Regions from separate parts of the Homo sapiens genome. Here region 1 is linked to region 2. Evidence: fine-mapped expression QTL. A gene starts in region 2. The other region holds a variant in brackets. All regions are shown on one strand. Distances are from middle to middle. Region 1 has its middle 110 kb from the start of SNORD3H. Region 2 holds the start of TSPYL5 (TSPY like 5).

Region 1 (8,337 bases), 190 kb after region 2:
ATATATCAAAACATTGTTGTACACCTTAAATATACACCATTTTATTTGTCAATTAAACCTCAATAAAGATGAAAAAGAGAAAAAAAGGACCCACTCTAGAACAAACATAAGAATTACAAAATAAGAAAAATAAAGTAACTAGCAAAAGCCTCTAGCATCTTAAAACATCAATTATAAAAAGCCAGTTACTATCAAGTTTTCTTTGATTCCTTTATCGAAATGAATAATTCTTCACTAGTGGCCATCAAGCTCAGCCCTTCCCCTTTCAACAAAAATCTTTGTGCAAACTCTATTGAATTCAAATTTTCTACAACAAAAATACATCATCAGATTGCTCCAAGGGCCCTGATGACATTTTCTTAGTAGCACAAGCACAGTGGTAACTAATATCTCATTTACTATATGTTGAGTATAAAAAGTCATTGGTCTGGAGACCCCCTAAAACACCAAATATTTTTCTAAAATCATTAGCATTTTCCCTATGAAATGAGAATATTATATATTGAACCATATTTGTTATTTGTATTCTAGCTACTTGAAAAAAGCACCTGAGGTGGTTGAGACAATAAACATATATACTTCTCAATCATTAAAATATGGATAAAATATCAGCTGGGCTTGTTGGATCATGTGTGTAATCCCAACACTTTGGGAGGCTGAGGCAGGAGGATCACTTGAGCCCAGGCATTCAAGATCAGCCTGGGGAGCAAAAAATAAAAAAATTAGCCAGGCATAGTGGTGCCAGCCTGTACTCCCAGCTACTCAGGAGACTGAGGCAGGAGGATTGCTTGAGTCCAGGAAGTAGAGGCTGTGGTGAGCCATGTTTGTGCCACTGTACTCCAGCCTGGACAACACAGCAAGACCCTGTCTCACAAATAAATAAATAAAATAAGGAGAAAATATCATAAGTATGTACTTGAGAAGAGGAAGATTATTATACTAGAAGCCCAGGCTAAGGGGAGTTACTATAAATGAGTCCTAAATCTTGTTTTAGATTTTTCAGTGGCAAACAGGAAATTTGGTGAACATTATAACTCTCACTTATTAAAACAGAAACAAAGCTTTTTCTTTTGTACTAAAATCTAAGAGAAAATTATTGTATGAATCCTTATATAAAGAACACTAAACAACAATAGGCAACTTTTAAGGCAATTTTAGGGAAGCAAACTTTTTTTCATATGAACATTTCATATAACCTCAAGGGGATCATATTAAATAATCATTTTATGAAGGTTGTTCTCCAGAGAAATAAACTAATATAGTCCAGGTATGTGATTTTTCTGGAGCTGTAATTTGATGAGGAGATATAGCCTGGAAAATCTAAAAGATTAGATTATTAGAAGTTCTGTTAGATAACCTTAGTCAAGTATAAAACACTGTGGCTGTGTCTTTAACAGACAACTAAAGACTGAGCTCCCTTGAGTGTGTCTATTTTCTGGTCAACACCTAAAATCAGACCTGCATGCTTTTGATAACAGAAGTGCAAAGAGCCAGATGCCACTTGGTTAAGATAATCAAAAAGCAGCACAGTGGATCTCAATCATGATACTTGCCCTGCCCAGAGCCCTTGCAGACATCTTTGCTGAAGGGGTTGTACCACATGTACCTAGCCAAAGCTAACTGGACAGGGGCAGTCACCTAACTTAAAGGCCAATAAGCCATAGGCCAATTAGGCCCATGATATGTGTAGGGGAGAAAAAGCAGTATCTTTTACTTATCCATCACAAGGTTCATGGCTGAGGCTCCTATCATAAAAGACAGGTTAACAAGAGAAAAGCACACACATTTATCTAATAGATGTTTTATGTGGCTCCGGCACCTTCAGAAATGAAGACCCAAAGAAATAGGGAAATATGTATTTGTATGCTTACGTTTGATGAAGAGTAGATGGTTGAGGAGAGGTAAGATCGAAGGATAATAGGATATGATCTAATAGCAATAAACTGGGGGAAACTTAGCAAGGCTGTTCAGATACTTCTCTGGGTCCGTGTCTTCGGAGATAAGGATGTTGTTTTCCTTTAGGTATAGGACAGGCACTTCTGGAATGATAATTTTATGACCTCTTTCAGGGAAAGTTTAGCTGGGTTTTATGGCCTGATTCAAGGGAAGAGGAGCAAGGAAAAGGTGAGAGTGACCTCCCTGCTTCTTCTGTTCCTCAAATGACAAGCTGCCATATTTTGGGGTAGCATGTCTTGAGCCCCATCACATGGCTTGGCTTGAAAACATAAACTTGTCCATTCTGATTGGCTCTCTTCATCATTTAAACAAACAAACAAACAAACAAAAAATACTGAGATTGGGACAGAAGCTATGAGAAGCAGAAGATTTGAGGCAGATGAGTGCATGGAGATAAAGATGAGAAATCTGAGCAAAAAGGATCCAAGGGTGTTTTCCAGAGGGGGCTGACCCACGTGCATTTCCAAGCTCTAGAATTCAGATCATTCTGCTTCTCTCCACTCTATGGGTCCTGCCCTTTCCTGTCTGGTTCTTCAGTTTTTCCTAGCTTTCTCTGTGTATGTACCCTTCAAGTAAATGGTGAATTACCTAAAGTAATTTGTCTAAGTCACTTTTTTTGCACCCAAAGCAGATAAATTAAAATATATTATTTTATCTATGGAAAGAGCTTTTCACCTTTACTAGAGATTAGCTAAATCAATCTTTTGGGGCTCTGTTTAGCCAGAGGCAAAATTGTTCTCCAGCAGCATCCTCTTAGGAGCCTGGAAAAACTGAAATCAATTGAAGCCCCTGAGTTTTCACCATGAAGTACAAAAGAAACAGATTTAACCTGAGATAAATATTTAAGGACAAATATTACCAGTTTTCTGTCTTTATGGGGAAAAAGAATGATAGTACAAGTCTCTTGAATATCTGATTTTAAGCAGCATGGCTTCCTGGCCAGGACCAGGGTTGGTTAACTGCAGATGGGTTAGTCCTAGATAATCCAATATATTTTGTGTTACAGTCCATCTAAATATTGAAAAATGTCAATCCCAAGTAACAATTTTGATTTCAAAGTACTAATGAAAGTAAAATAAAAGATAATAAAGTTGACTAAAGACATTTTCTGGGAACAGACAGCCTGGATTTAAATGCTGGCTCCTAAATCTGCTAGATGTGGAAACTTGAACAAGTTTCTGCATCTTCATTTCCTCATCTGTAAAATGGGGACGGTTATAGTACCTTTCCAAGTGAGTGATTATGACTTTCAAACAAAATGATTTATGGAGATCAGTTAGTACAGTGCCTAGCATACAGCAGGCACTCAATAACTGTGAGTTATTACTAACACTCCTTCTGGGTTATCTTCTTTTAGTTACTCCAGTCACTTTATTCAAAGATACTGTACTTGGGAGTCATCTTTAGAAAAGTTTTAAAGAAGCAAAATCAAAAAGCAAAACATACAGAAGGTAGTTTGCATTAATATGGTAACATGAAGCTATTTGGGACTGAAGTGCATGGATTTGAAGAACTAGAGTTCCAAGGGCTCAGTGGAGGATGAAGAAGCCATTTTATGATAGTGAAGATGTAAACATCCATTCAAAGATCTGGCATCCTGGAGGAAAATACCTATATTTTTAAAATAGGTATTTTAAATTGGCTGGGTGTGGTGGCTCACACCTATAATCCCAGCACTTTGGGAGGCCGAGACAGGAGGATCGCTTGAGCCCAGGAATTTGAGATCAGCCTGGACAACATGGCAAGACCGCATCTCTACAAAAAAATATAAAAATTAGCTGGGCATGATGACACACACCTGTAGCCCCAACTACTAGGGAGACTGAGGTGGGAGGATCACTTGAGCCCAGGAGGTTGAGGGTGCAGTGAGCCATGATCATGCCACTGCGCTCCAGCCCAGGCAACAGAGTGAGACCCTGTCTTAAAATAAATAAATACAAAGACAAATTAATTAAAACAACAACAAAACTACTTTTTAAACACCTTCTGTTCTTTTATTATTTTCACACTCACTATTATTGCTGCTAGGTTCTTAAAAGCTTGTGTCAACACAATTTCTTTACCTTCCCAAAATAAAATCCCCAATCTAAGCACCCGTAGTTGACACTATCAATGTCCCACTTTTACTCTTTATCCACAGCCTTCTCACTGCAGGTATCTGCATCTCTGTTCCTGCAGGTTTTTTATAGAACCAAAGTGTTGCTCCCCACCAAGTGGCAGAACAAAAGTGCTAGGAAGAAATACCCTACCCTTGGGAATAGCCTTCAACCAAAGACTTTTGGGAGTCAGTGTATAAATACCCCAGCTCCCTCACTCTTCAGATAGAATTCAAAGACAAGTGTTTTACCCGACTTCTCAGGGATTTCCTGCAGAATTAAGCCCTAGTCACCCACAGTAGTTGCTGAGTTAATAACACACCCTTATTGGCTGTCTTTTCTTCTCAATATTACTTTTCCACTCCCACCCCTAATGTTCCCTGCACCTCTTAAATAAACTACTTGCCTTGAATCCTTGTCTCAGGGTCTGTCTATGAGACAACCCAAATCTCTGCAGACATCTTTTTCTTATTAAGCAATCTAAAGTGTCCATGAGAGCAGTTAAAACTCCCAAGCAGCCTTCTGCGTTGATATTTTTTTGCTCTCTTCCCCACAGATTTGCCAAACTGCAGAGATGTCTGTCAAGATGTCGAGCCTAAGAACTGGGAATGAAAAACACCAATGCAGCTGTGCAAAAGGTAGCCTCACTTTTTCATGGGTAGTATCCCAAGAGACAGAGACAGAACTCGGTGGCTGCTTTTCATCTCCACTCTCCAGTACAAAGTGGCTGGATAGCCTTTGCCAAGGTATCAGTTTTCCCATGGTGAGGACTGCCAGGCAATTAGATTCTTGCTCTCTCCAAATTTCAGGAGGAGCACATAAGTTTTATTTTTAACTGTGCAGGAAGATGTTGCCATAGCAACATAACAAAC[T/C]ACAAGAGCAATTTGATTGATTGATGATGTTGTGGGGAAGGAGGACTGGCATGAAAGACACTGAAAAAAATCATTTAGCTTTATCACCCTGGATTGAGTTTATAGATCTTGGTTATTAGACACAGTATGTGACACATGTTTATCATTATGCAAAAGGAAACATAGACCTTTTTCTGCCTTGGTTCCCCAAAGCAAGATGATGACAAACTAGTGAACTGGCCATCAAGAAAGTGAGCTGGTCTCATGAGTTAAAGAGGCATGATAAACGTGGCTGAAAGAACATAGTATTTGCTAGGCAGGCTAGGCATAGTGGAACATTCATATGCCCCACTCATCAATTAATGGGGAACATTCTGCTATTCCCTGCCCTAAAAACATTTCACTTTCAGCCATCCTCTCCTTTCAATTAATCTTCCTCACCAACTTCCTTCCCTACAGCCCAGGGAAGGCAAGGGAGCATGCCAGTAGGGAAGAAGGGGGATATGACTAAAGAGCGGTTCTCATCAGACAGGAAAGGAATGTGGAAAACCTTTTGGTAGGGCAGGGAGAAAGTTTTAGGGCAGCAGCTCTCAAAGTGGTCTGGATTCTCCTGTGAGTCCCAAGATCCTCTCAGGCGCTGCATAAGGCCAAAACTATTTTCATGATTCTACTAAGACATTATTTGCTTTTTACACTGTGTCTACTTCAGGAAGGTACAGTGGAGTTTTCCAGAGGCTACATATGATTATCATTAACAGTTTAAATGTTGAAGCATATATCTTCCATTAGATATATGCTGAAACAGACACTGTCTTCTGTGAAGCCAAACATAAAAGAGGTTTCCAAAAAATGTAAAATGATGCTACTTTTCTCACTAATTGTTTTGTTTCAGAAATATAGTTATTCATTAAAAATGTAATTTATGTTAATAAGTAATGAGATTTTTTATTTTTAAATAAATCAGTAACAGTTTTAATTTCTAATGTGGTTAATATTAATAGAAATAACCCATTTAAGCGGAAATTCTTTGCAGTTTCAATAATTTTTAAGAGTATAAAGGGGCCTTCAAGCCAAAAATCTTGAGGACCAGTCACAAGAGATCAGATTAAGATAACTACGTTACTGAAGTCCCTGAGAAAGGAGTCAGAATCTCAGCACAAGATGGGCTGGAAGGGATTAAAGAATATCCAGTTTGCCGGACAAAGCCTCTGGGAGAAGTTCCACACTCACTCTGGCACCACCATTAACAAGCTCTGGAGCAGTAGAATAGGCAGCAGCAAGGATAGAAGGGCCTGGGTGAACAGTTCCACTTCCGATTACCCATGGCTGCGCTTGGTGTGAAGGGATTCAGAAGCCCAGTGGGGTCCGGCGGAAGTGATAACTCAAAGAGCTGGAATCGTCGTGGAAGCAAGGCAGGAAGACTGCAGACTGTGGTGCTAATCCCCCAAAGGCTTGGGCAGGGACCATTTACTTCCACTAACAGGCAGGAGCCATCCTTCAGCAACATCAGTATCAGATGTCCTATGACCCAACAGGGCCGGGAAGATTCTCGGCACCAGAAGGCGAGGGTCTCGAGCCACAGGCCCCGGTTCTTGCAGCCCATGAGATATCAGCCTCACCATCTTGAGAAGGAAAAAGGGAAAACACCTTGAGGAGCTGAAAGAGGCCCTCTAGGAAGCTTGTGCTTTCTGTTAACTACATATTTACTCACAAAGGACTATGTTATACCGGAAAACCCCAGTTACTAGATTTAAGCAAATTTAAGGTGACTTTTTTCCTACATCAGTTGAAATTTTTGGTCAGAACAATATGAGCTCAACTAATTTTTTTGTACGTATAAATCATAGTGGTTACATTTTGACATCAGCTCAAAGTTCTCTTTCTCTGTTCCTGTCCTATAGAAAGCTTTCCTTAATAATTTCTTCATCTTTTTCCTTTATCGTTCTCATTTTTTTCCTCCATTTGTTTCCCTCTCCTTATCCATCTGCTTTTATTCTCCCTCCTCTATATTCTTTTTTATTGTTCTCTGCCTCAAGCAAGTTAATCGTAGCCTAAACTTACTGACCCAACAGTATTCAAAGCTGTTTTCAAGAGTTGCTAATTCCTGTGTCATTTACTGTGAGCATACAATAGTACACCAGGAACTTTATACAGAGCATTTCATTTAATCTTCACATCAACCCTATATTTAATGTTTATACTTAATGCTTTATTGCAGCTCAGAGTAATGAAATTTGTCCAGTTTACACAACTGGTTATATATGTCAGGGTAAGGATTTAAACCCACACTCGTCAAACTCCAAGCCCATGACCCTTCCTCTATATCAAGCAGCCTCCACAGGTAGAGTATTTTACAAGTTACAGTCCAAGAGCTATTTGCACCCCAATCTTCCCTGCCCTCTCTTACTCTTCGCTTATGACATATGTTTCTCCTGTGCCCATACTCTTCATGAGTTGAGGTTGTAGACAAACCAAGAAATGGGGAGCAGTCACACACAACATTATACCTAGACCATTATCTAAGAATAAAATGCAGAAGCTTTAGCAGTGGAACTCCAATTTGTATTTTTCTTTAATCACATGTGCCTTGGAAGTTGATGATATGACAGAAGTTATATGATGAAGTCAAAGAATTGCCAAAATTCCCAGAATTTCATTAGATACAATTCTTAAATTATCTTTAATTGAGCACTTGCTATGTACCAGGCACACAACTAGTTAATTTCCATATGTTCTCTAATTCAACTCCTGCAACAACTCTACATGACAAATTTTAATTCCCTTTCACAGATGAGAAAACTGAAGCCTTAAGGGTTTAAAATACTTTCTTATGATATCACAACTAGTAAATTCAAACTCAGGTCTGTCAGATTCAAAGCTGAAGTTCTTTTCGCTCCCTGCAACGATTATGTTTCACTGATATGTTACAATCCCACTGCTAGCATGTGACTTGGAGTTATTAGATTTTTTTTTTTTTTGGTATAAACCTTTTAGGATTCAACGTGCCCCCTCAGGCAGAAAACTGCCACATAGAGATGATGCATTGTCCCAGGAATGTGTTTTTTAAATCAGAAACAAATCCATTTCTCTGCTTTTATATTGCATTGATGTCCTTCCTCCTTTTAAAGTTCTCCTGAATGATAGAGGCATTGAAAATCACATTTTGCCTGCTAGTTTTCTTGTTACCATCTACTACCTTTTGGTGCCACCCTCCTCCTTTTTATATTTTTTGAAGAAAATAGTGAAATAGCTTAGATATTAAACTATAAATTATACTAAGATGTGATTTGGAACTGAAATAAACCTCATGCTTTTTTAATGGGAATTTTCAAATACTGAAAATTTATTACCCAAAGGGAAAGACGAGTCTAGACTTTTCTACTTCTCCCCAGTGCCTGGGTGACAAGTGACCTCAGGTTTCACCGAGGAATCAC
Region 2 (8,337 bases):
ATTCTGGTGAAGGGTCTCAAGTACCTTACCATATCAGAATTTTTGAAAGAGTTTTACAACAGAACAGTCTCTCTCTTGTTTTGTAGATGCAAGGGAAAGGAAGCATCCCTCTCATTTCTTTTTGAGACTCCTTGTTAATTCTTAAAACACATTTCTAAGGCCCATCTCTGGAACTTCATTAGTTAACATTAAAAGCAAAAAGCAGACCTGATGTGATTATGATAGTGCACCCCATCACTATCACCATCAAAAGAGACTACCAATCTCCCAAAGTAGTCACGGTTGCATTGGCATAGTGTCTTGGATTTTCAATAAACAATACAGGTGAAAAGAGAGAGATACAGATGAAACCAGGTTGACCATAGCTGATAAGTGATGCAGCTAGGTGATGGACACATGGGGTCCAAGGACCATCCTCTCCACTTCTGTGCATGTCTGAAAATGTCCATAACACAGAGCAAAAAAAAAAAAATAATAACAAAAAACAAAAAAGCAGACTTGCACATCTGTATCTTCCCATTAGACTAAAATGGGGAAAGTCGTAAGACTTTAAAGGCAAAATGTGCAGCATATAGCATTCTTCTGCATGTACAAAGCCACACCTAGAACAAAAAAATAAAGCATCCAAAGTAACATTATTCCGTTTCTGGTTTGTCTCTGTGGCTTATAAAATCTACTAATGATAAGATTGGACAAAACTTTGGGAACATCCTCAACTAGGCATCCTATTTGTTCATAACCCCTTCAATTCTCATTTTCCAAGCTAGGGAGGTCCCTCCCATACTCTATCACTGAGAGACAGGCATGCTCCCCCTGCGGCTTCTCAAGCCATTTCTGTCTGATTTTGCAGGCCCACTCCATACCAGTATCATGCCTACTCGACGGTTTTGCTCCAAATCCCCCACCTAGCACACCCTTGCTACAGCTTTAAGCCAAGGACTCTCTTGAGGAACTTAGAATGAGGCCTCCCTAACAAAAGAGAAGGTAGGGAAGAACAGGTGTAGATACAGTCCTTCTTACCCACCCTCAGGGATAAGAGAGGGAAAGGCCCAGCTCTGCTTTTACACCCACTGGAAATAACCCGGAGATCCAAAACAGATTCTGCCCATCCCAATCCCCATCCCCCAGGAGAAGCTTGAGATGCTCCATATTGGAGACTAAAGCCCACTCCTGGGGCTATTTGAGGTAGAAGCAAAGAGAGCAAAGGACTGCTGAAAGTGGGAAAGCTGGGGATTGAGGTCCAGATGGCCAGAGGCTACCACAAAGGAGGAAACAGCAGGAGGCACTTGGGTCTTAGGAAGCATTAAAACAAAGTCAAAACAAGAGTAAACACTAGTCTATGACATGGCTGCCTTGGGGTTTATAACTCAAGCAGATGCTAGGCATGAAAAGGATTTTCAACTTCAGAACTGTAGAGCAAGCGCAGGAGACAGGTTCAGGGTTTGCCAGCAGATCCACTTGGCCTTCTGGTTTCCTCAACTCTCTTTCAACCTAGTATGTGTGCGCAGTGCCAAGTTCTCAGCTACCTCCCCAGCTGTATGTAGAAAAATGTGGTTTTTCAGTTGTTTTCTCTGTGGTACTATTTAAACAAAATAAAAAAGAATAAGGAAAGAAGGAAGGGGAAGGCAGAAGGGGAGGAAAGGAGGCTACCAGGAAAGGGAGGGAGGAAAGAAGAATGAGAGGGAGGAAATGAGGGATGAAGGCAGGCAAGCAAAATAAGAAGTATAAGTGACCTGAAGTCAAGCAAGCAGAGGCCCACAAATCAGAAATACCTCTTCCCAGAACCCCTACTATGGCACTCTGCTCACATCTTAGACGGGAATAAGGGAAGTTGACAATGGTATCTGGATTCTATATAGGCCCAGTCCTCACCCTCACCTGGAGCCACAGCATAATGACAGTGAACACATGTCCACACATACCAGCCCGCCCATCAGTCTGGCAGCCAGTAGGGTTCCTGGAAAGCTGGGGAGGGTAGGTGTGTGTCTCATGCACTGGTAGGGGGCCTCGGTCCACAGGCAGTTCTTGAGGTCCTTGTTGACCAGGAAGCCAACTGGGGCTGACAGCAACCCAGACAAAACTTAATGGCTTGATAGTGACACGGCATGGCGCAGATCTTGATGAAAGTTCACCAGTAGAAGGGCCCAGAAGCAAGAAGAGACACATGATGGTACAGAACACATGGCATACTGTTTCTTGCCCTTAACTTCATGCATGCCCAGCAGTCAAGTGCCATTCTGCAGAACATCAAGCAGGATGGGTATCACAGACCACAGGCCAAAGCCAGAAATAAAGCAGGTGACATCTCAGCTGGTGACCCCAGACCCACAGAACAGGAAGTTCTGGCTGATGACTAATACCATGTGCACTGGCTTCATTCTGCAGTGGCAATGGAAACGCTTGCATAGATGACATGCATGGCCAGCATGAACACGAAGCCCAGCAAGTCACTGGCCCTGAAGGAGCAGAGCTTGAGGATGCACTGGTCGTCCTGGAGGATGACTCATGAGTGTCCATGTTAAAGACAAGTAGGAAAGGCCAGAGCCAAGAACAAGGTCCAGGCAATGTAGATAACAGGGAGCACACATCTAAAGTATGTGTGCTTAACATATGAACAGTCCGGGTGCGATCACATAACATGTGACACTAACGTAGAAAAGCAAGAGGCTATGGGAGGCAAAAGAACATGATCATAAATGCCATATTCTTGTAACTAAAGTCCAAAGGGTCTATAGTACACAGAGGCCAACATGAAGAGAAGGCAGAGAGCCAAATATGTAGTCAACCAGGAGCAGCCCAGCAGGAGGTAGCAGGGAGACTTGTGCAGGATCAGTTGGATTGGCTCACCCCAGGCTGAGTAGTCTCCATTGGCTGCTTTCCTGGACCTTGCCTGCCTTCTTTTTCCTTTCCTTTCTCTACACGAGCCCCTTCACTCAAAAGGTAGAACTGCAAGGGATTGGGCCACAATTCTTCGTTGATTATCTCCACAATCTTGTCAGACTCAATGGAGCTGTGGTTTGAAAACCACCCAAAGAAACTACGGTTGTTTTCTGGGTTTCCCTGGCTTAGGGACTGGAGATCATGCCCTGGGAGCCACTGGATTGGAGTAGAACGAGACACCACCTGGCCAGAAGGACCACACCCATATTCCTTGATGAGCACCTTATTTTGGAAATACGGGTTGCGATCGAAGTAGAACTTGATTTTGTAGCCCAATCTGGCAAGGCCGAGCTCTTCCACTTCCAAGCTGTTTAAGTAGCTCAGTACCTCTTTCTCTTGGCTATTCAGAAAGGATGCTAGCTGGGGATGGTTCTGAAATGCTTGCCCCCAGAAGCCCGGGATATTTTGGATGAGGTGGTTCCTGCGCTCCAAGTGCTGCAGTCGCAACTGCCCAAACTTCCTGGAGAGCCGAAGGTAGGCCCTGTCCGCCTGGGCGTTCATGTTCTCCAGCTTCAGCTGCACGTTCTCCAGCGTATCCATGCTGCCTTCCGTCGCTGGGGGCCCCGACCCTGCATCCCTCTCTTCCTTCTTTTCCTCCCCAGCTGACACCGAGGTATTCTCCCCTGCCGCCCCTTTCTTCTGCCTCCCACCAGCTATGACCTGAGGCCCCCTCCCCGCGGTGCTACAGGTTTCTGGGGCCTTCTTCCCGGCAGGGCCACGCCGGTTTCCAACGCGGGGGGCATTTTTCGGCCTTCCCACGGTTCCCGCTGTTCCCACGAAGACAGTGTCTGCGGCCAGGCGCTCCGAGAGAGATGCGGCCTTCCCCGGGCCGGGCCTGGCCGCGGCCTGCCCGTGGTCCCCCGCAGCTCGGGCCCGCAGCGCGAGGCCACAGTCCAGGGGGAGCCGGCAGGCGGCCTCCTCCCCGAGCCGGAGGAGCTGCGCGGACGCAGCGGCTTCCAGGCCACCCCACCCCGCGCCAGCCTGCACCTGTGCCGCCTGGGTGTCTTCCCCGAGACTCTGGTACTGTGAAGGGTCCGGGTCGCGCGGGGCGTCGTCCGGAGCAGGGCGGACTCGGGCTTTGGCGCGGCCTTTGCCCCGGTTTTTGGCGCGGGAGGACTTTCGACCCCGACTTCGGCCGCTCATGGTGGCGGCGGAGGCAGCTTCAAAGACACGCTGTGACCCTGCGGCTCCTGACGCCAGCTCTCGGTCGGGACCGAGCGGGTCTCTCCACGGCAACCGCCGACGTCACGAACGTACAACTGTACCGTCGCGAGAGGACGTGATGCGCCCGGTGATTGGCGCCGCCGCTGCGGCTGCGCAGGAGACGACCCCCGCGGGCGCTCCCACCCCCATCTCGCGCGGACTCGCTTTAGGTCTCGGCGAGTTTCTCTGATATGCGCTCGCGGGGGTGCTGCCATTTCATCTCTTCCGCGCGGGCTCATCGTGCTCTCAGGGTCTCGTTGAACAAGGCAACGCTAAGAGCCATCACCACCTGTCCCCCATCACCTGTTTTCTAAACTAAACATCTTCAGCTCCTCCAGTTATCTCTTGTGGCATCTGTCATGAAGAAAGTGCTCGGGCGTGTGTGTCTCTCTTTGAACACCTTTGCTGAGGGATTTGCTCTGGTACCTTAACTCCAGAGAACGTAAAGGTGGATGCTATAATGCCGGGCGTCAAAGCGATTTGGTACGCAGTAAGATGATAGTAGAAATTATAAAAATAATGGCAACTAGTATTTTGTATCATTTGTGCCAGGCACTTTACTAGGTGCTTTAAATGCATTATCTCAATTTACAAAGGAGGTGTTGATATCATTCCCATTTTCGAGATAAGAAAACTGCATCTCAGAGACACCCGGGCACATTCCCCAGGTTACACAGTAAGGGATGGAAGCACAATTCAAACTCAAGCCCATGGGACTCCGTATCCTATGCCTTATATTTGGAAATGGCAAGTCCTTCCAGACTTGTTCCACTGTCAATTACTGGGCTGGCTCTTAAGAAATCAGCCTTGCTCCTTAACAAACAGGCTTCCGTGGACCACCTGACCACCTCTTCTGCCTGGGAACATCACCCGAGTCCCCCAGCTGCCTCAGTTTACAGATCTGGACTATCACTCTAGGTATAGGACCAGAAGTGAAGACCTGTATTAGAGCTCCTGTAATTGGAGTAAGACAAGAATGTGGTGAGAGGTGAAATTATTATTCAGGGAGCAGATTGAGGTTCAGAAGCAGAGCCTCCACGTGGCACTGCAGAAGCCCTAGAAACTTCTTACACTGTGCATGGAAACAGCCGGACAACCTCCCCCACAGTCCCGGAGGCAGCCCTGGACCACGCTCTTACTAGTGAGGTAATAGGACCATGAACAGTGAGGGGACCTGTGGCTAATGTAAAAATATAAAGAAAAACCTTTTGAGGTGGTCTTTTCAGGCTCAAAGGGAACAAAAAGGCCCTTGTAACCAGCTAGTGGAGAGATAAGCCCAAAAGCCCCGGGACCTCATTACTCAAAGTGTGGTTGTGGACCAGCAGCCTGATATCACCTGAAAGCTTGTTAAAGATGCAGAATCTCAGGCCTTTCCCCAGACCTACTAAGTCAGAATTTGAATTTTAACAAGATCCTGGGTGATTTGTATACACCCCTAAGTTTAAGGAAACAATTTAAAGAGGAATTATTTTTATACAGATGGCCCTATTTTAAGCCGGCCTAATACAAGTGATTCCTCATTTTCTCAAAAGCTCTAGAATAGCCTGCAAGGCCCTGTATGATCTGGCAAGTCTTCTATCTGCCACTACATGAGTTACCTCTCTGACCTCATCTTCTCTCTCCTCTCTCCCACCTCTAGCTACACTGGCTTCCTTGCTGTTCTTAAACTCACTAGGTAAACTCCTGCCTCAGAGCCTTTGCACTGGCTCTTCCTTCTACCTTAAATGCTCTTTCCCAATGTGGTTGGTGGCCTTGGCCAGCTGCCTTCACACTTTGCTTAAATGTCACCTTCTCAATGACCATCCTATTTAGAATTGCCACCCACCCCATCCCTTTATCCTATGGTACTTTTTCTTTATTCCAACACACTATACCAATTATTTATTATGCTTATTAACTATCTCTTCTCTCTAGAATGTCAGCTCCATGAGGGAAGAGATTTTTGTTTTGTTCACTGATGTATCCTCAGTGCCTGCAACAGTGTCTGACATATCAAGAGCACTTAATAAATACTTGTTGAAAGAAAGAACCAATCAAAGCAGAGTTTTCAAAAATGGGTTTGTAAATGATTGTCTGAAGTTCAGAATAGCTCCCCTTTTCCCACAGAAGCAATGCTATGGATGCTGTATTCTCAGATCAACTCATGGAAACCTACTAAACTCATAATTTAGCCAAAAAATTATCTTTTGTTACAGAGCACCATTCAGGGACAGTCTGTAAGTAAGAATTTAGAGTGACAAATTTAAAAATTAAGTTGGGAGATTTAATATTTGACTTAAAAGGGATTAATTAGTGCAAGGATTATCTTAAATTCTTGTTGAAGGCCCTTTCATAATAATTTCTTCCCAAGGCCTTCTGTGATCACCCCAGACCACAATAAGCAGCCTTGTCCTTGATCTCACAGAGTACTTGTTAACTATAGTATTCATTTGGCAGTGGGGCACACCCTGTTTTGTACCAGTTCTTTTACAAAATTACCTCTTAAGCTAGATAATCACAGCCTGAAACTCTCCGTAAACCTCAGAAAAAAAATTAAAAAATCATCTGACGCATTTGCCAACCCTCTATAGACTTTAGACATTGATGGGTTGGCCCACTTCTTAGAACACTCACAGATCAACCCATCTCTGTTGTCAAGAGTCTTAATCCAGCGTCAGCATCTGCGTCATGTAGCAGTCACCAATGGCTAAACCACTGTAGGATTAACACAGGGCTGGGCCATTGCAATGTGTTTATTATACAATCTGCCTTGAGCCTTTTTTCATCATGTCAAAGAGATAAGCATCAGATGAAGGGAAATAATTTAAAAAAATACCCCTCTGCTCTAAGCCACCCAGTTCCCCATGGCTTTTGTATTTAAGAGTTTGGTCTGTGCTGCTGAACTGGACTGTGTTTTCTTCTTGGGTCTTAATATTTAACTTTATGTGGAACTGTAGTTTGTGTTCCTAATTGGATAGTAAACTGTGTAAGTGTGGAGACTGTGTCTCTTTTTACTTTTATCTCTCAGAGTACCTAGCATGGGGCCTTGCACATACCAGTAATTATAATGAAAGTTTACATTTATTTCATACTTTTATATAGTGCTATGCCTTAACTCATTTAATCTCTGCAATCACCCCATGGGGCAGGTGCAATTATTGTTCTCGTCTTGGAGGAGGTTACTGCCACACAAAATGGTTCCATAACTTGCCCAAGGTCACACAGTTAATAAATGTTTTTTGCCCAAGCGATGCGACTCCAGCACCGTGCTCTTAATTAAAAATACATAATGTAAAATTATGGCTTAAGAGATTAAAACTCTCTCCAGTGGGTAAAAATACCTTTTAATGTTAAAAAAATTATATATATTAAAAATATATATACACACACATATGCAGATGCATACATATACACATAATACATACATCATTTAGTTATGAGTCATTTATTTATGGGGTATACAATATACCTGGCATAGCAATACTCAACATAAATTTAGTTTCAACAGCCCATGATGAGAACGAAGCATCTCTATTTGCACTGCATTTATCATAAGCATCCTGTTAATATTATGAAAGAAATGCAAGTTTACTGTCATGAACTCAGAGATCCTGGAGTGTTGTGAACTTCTTGCAATATCTGCAGGCTTAAGTTGATGGTAATATAAGCATTTAATTGATTATTTCTAATGTAATATTTATTAGCAAATATTTATTAGAAATTCATAAAATATTTTTCAAATGTTTATGTGTATTATGTCTATATGTATGTATATGCATATGTACTTGTGTGTATGTAATTCAAAATATTAGAATAAAAAATCTTCACTTTTGTTTTCTGCATATTGTGCTTTCTCCGTTCCTTTTGATATGTTTTCTTTGAATCACAGAAATTTACAAGCTGGGAAAAAGACATTTGTCATCCAGCCTATTCCTCAGCCAAGGGAACAATATTCCCCATCATTTCTCTCGTAGAGCTTTAGGATCCCAGACTTGACATTTTTAGCCACAGCACTTTTCTATTCTTCCCCAAGGAGAAAGTTTAAGTCTGTTAGATAGCAGTGAGTATTGCTTACTGTGTGGAATTTTGCCAACCAACCCTCCCAGGTTACCAAAGGGTATGGAAAAGAAGGCAGTGTCCTAAGAAATATTTTCATAGTCAAGGAGGGAGGGAGAGAAAAATCTGCCTCTTATGATAAATTTCAAGACTATTTGA

The links. PIP is the estimated chance that this variant, and not a neighbour inherited with it, causes the effect. A credible set is the group of variants that fine-mapping cannot tell apart.
Region 1: its variant is the best candidate, but not a certain one, in a credible set for the expression of TSPYL5 in whole blood (INTERVAL, PIP 0.80).

Annotation. Positions count from the first base shown.
Region 1 is chr8:97,466,270-97,474,606 of GRCh38, forward strand. No RefSeq gene overlaps it. Among named protein-coding and RNA genes, the nearest start is that of SNORD3H, 110 kb to the left of the region's middle. The variant T/C (reference allele first, on the strand shown) is at 4,925.
Region 2 is chr8:97,273,762-97,282,098 of GRCh38, forward strand. It overlaps TSPYL5 (TSPY like 5), which reads right to left and starts at 4,167. Exons shown (of 1, transcript NM_033512.3): 1 at 1-4,167. The coding sequence starts at 4,083. The coding sequence ends at 2,830. The region is part of intron 2 of LOC101927066 (a long non-coding RNA gene); the gene reads right to left. RefSeq lists an enhancer at 3,204-3,705.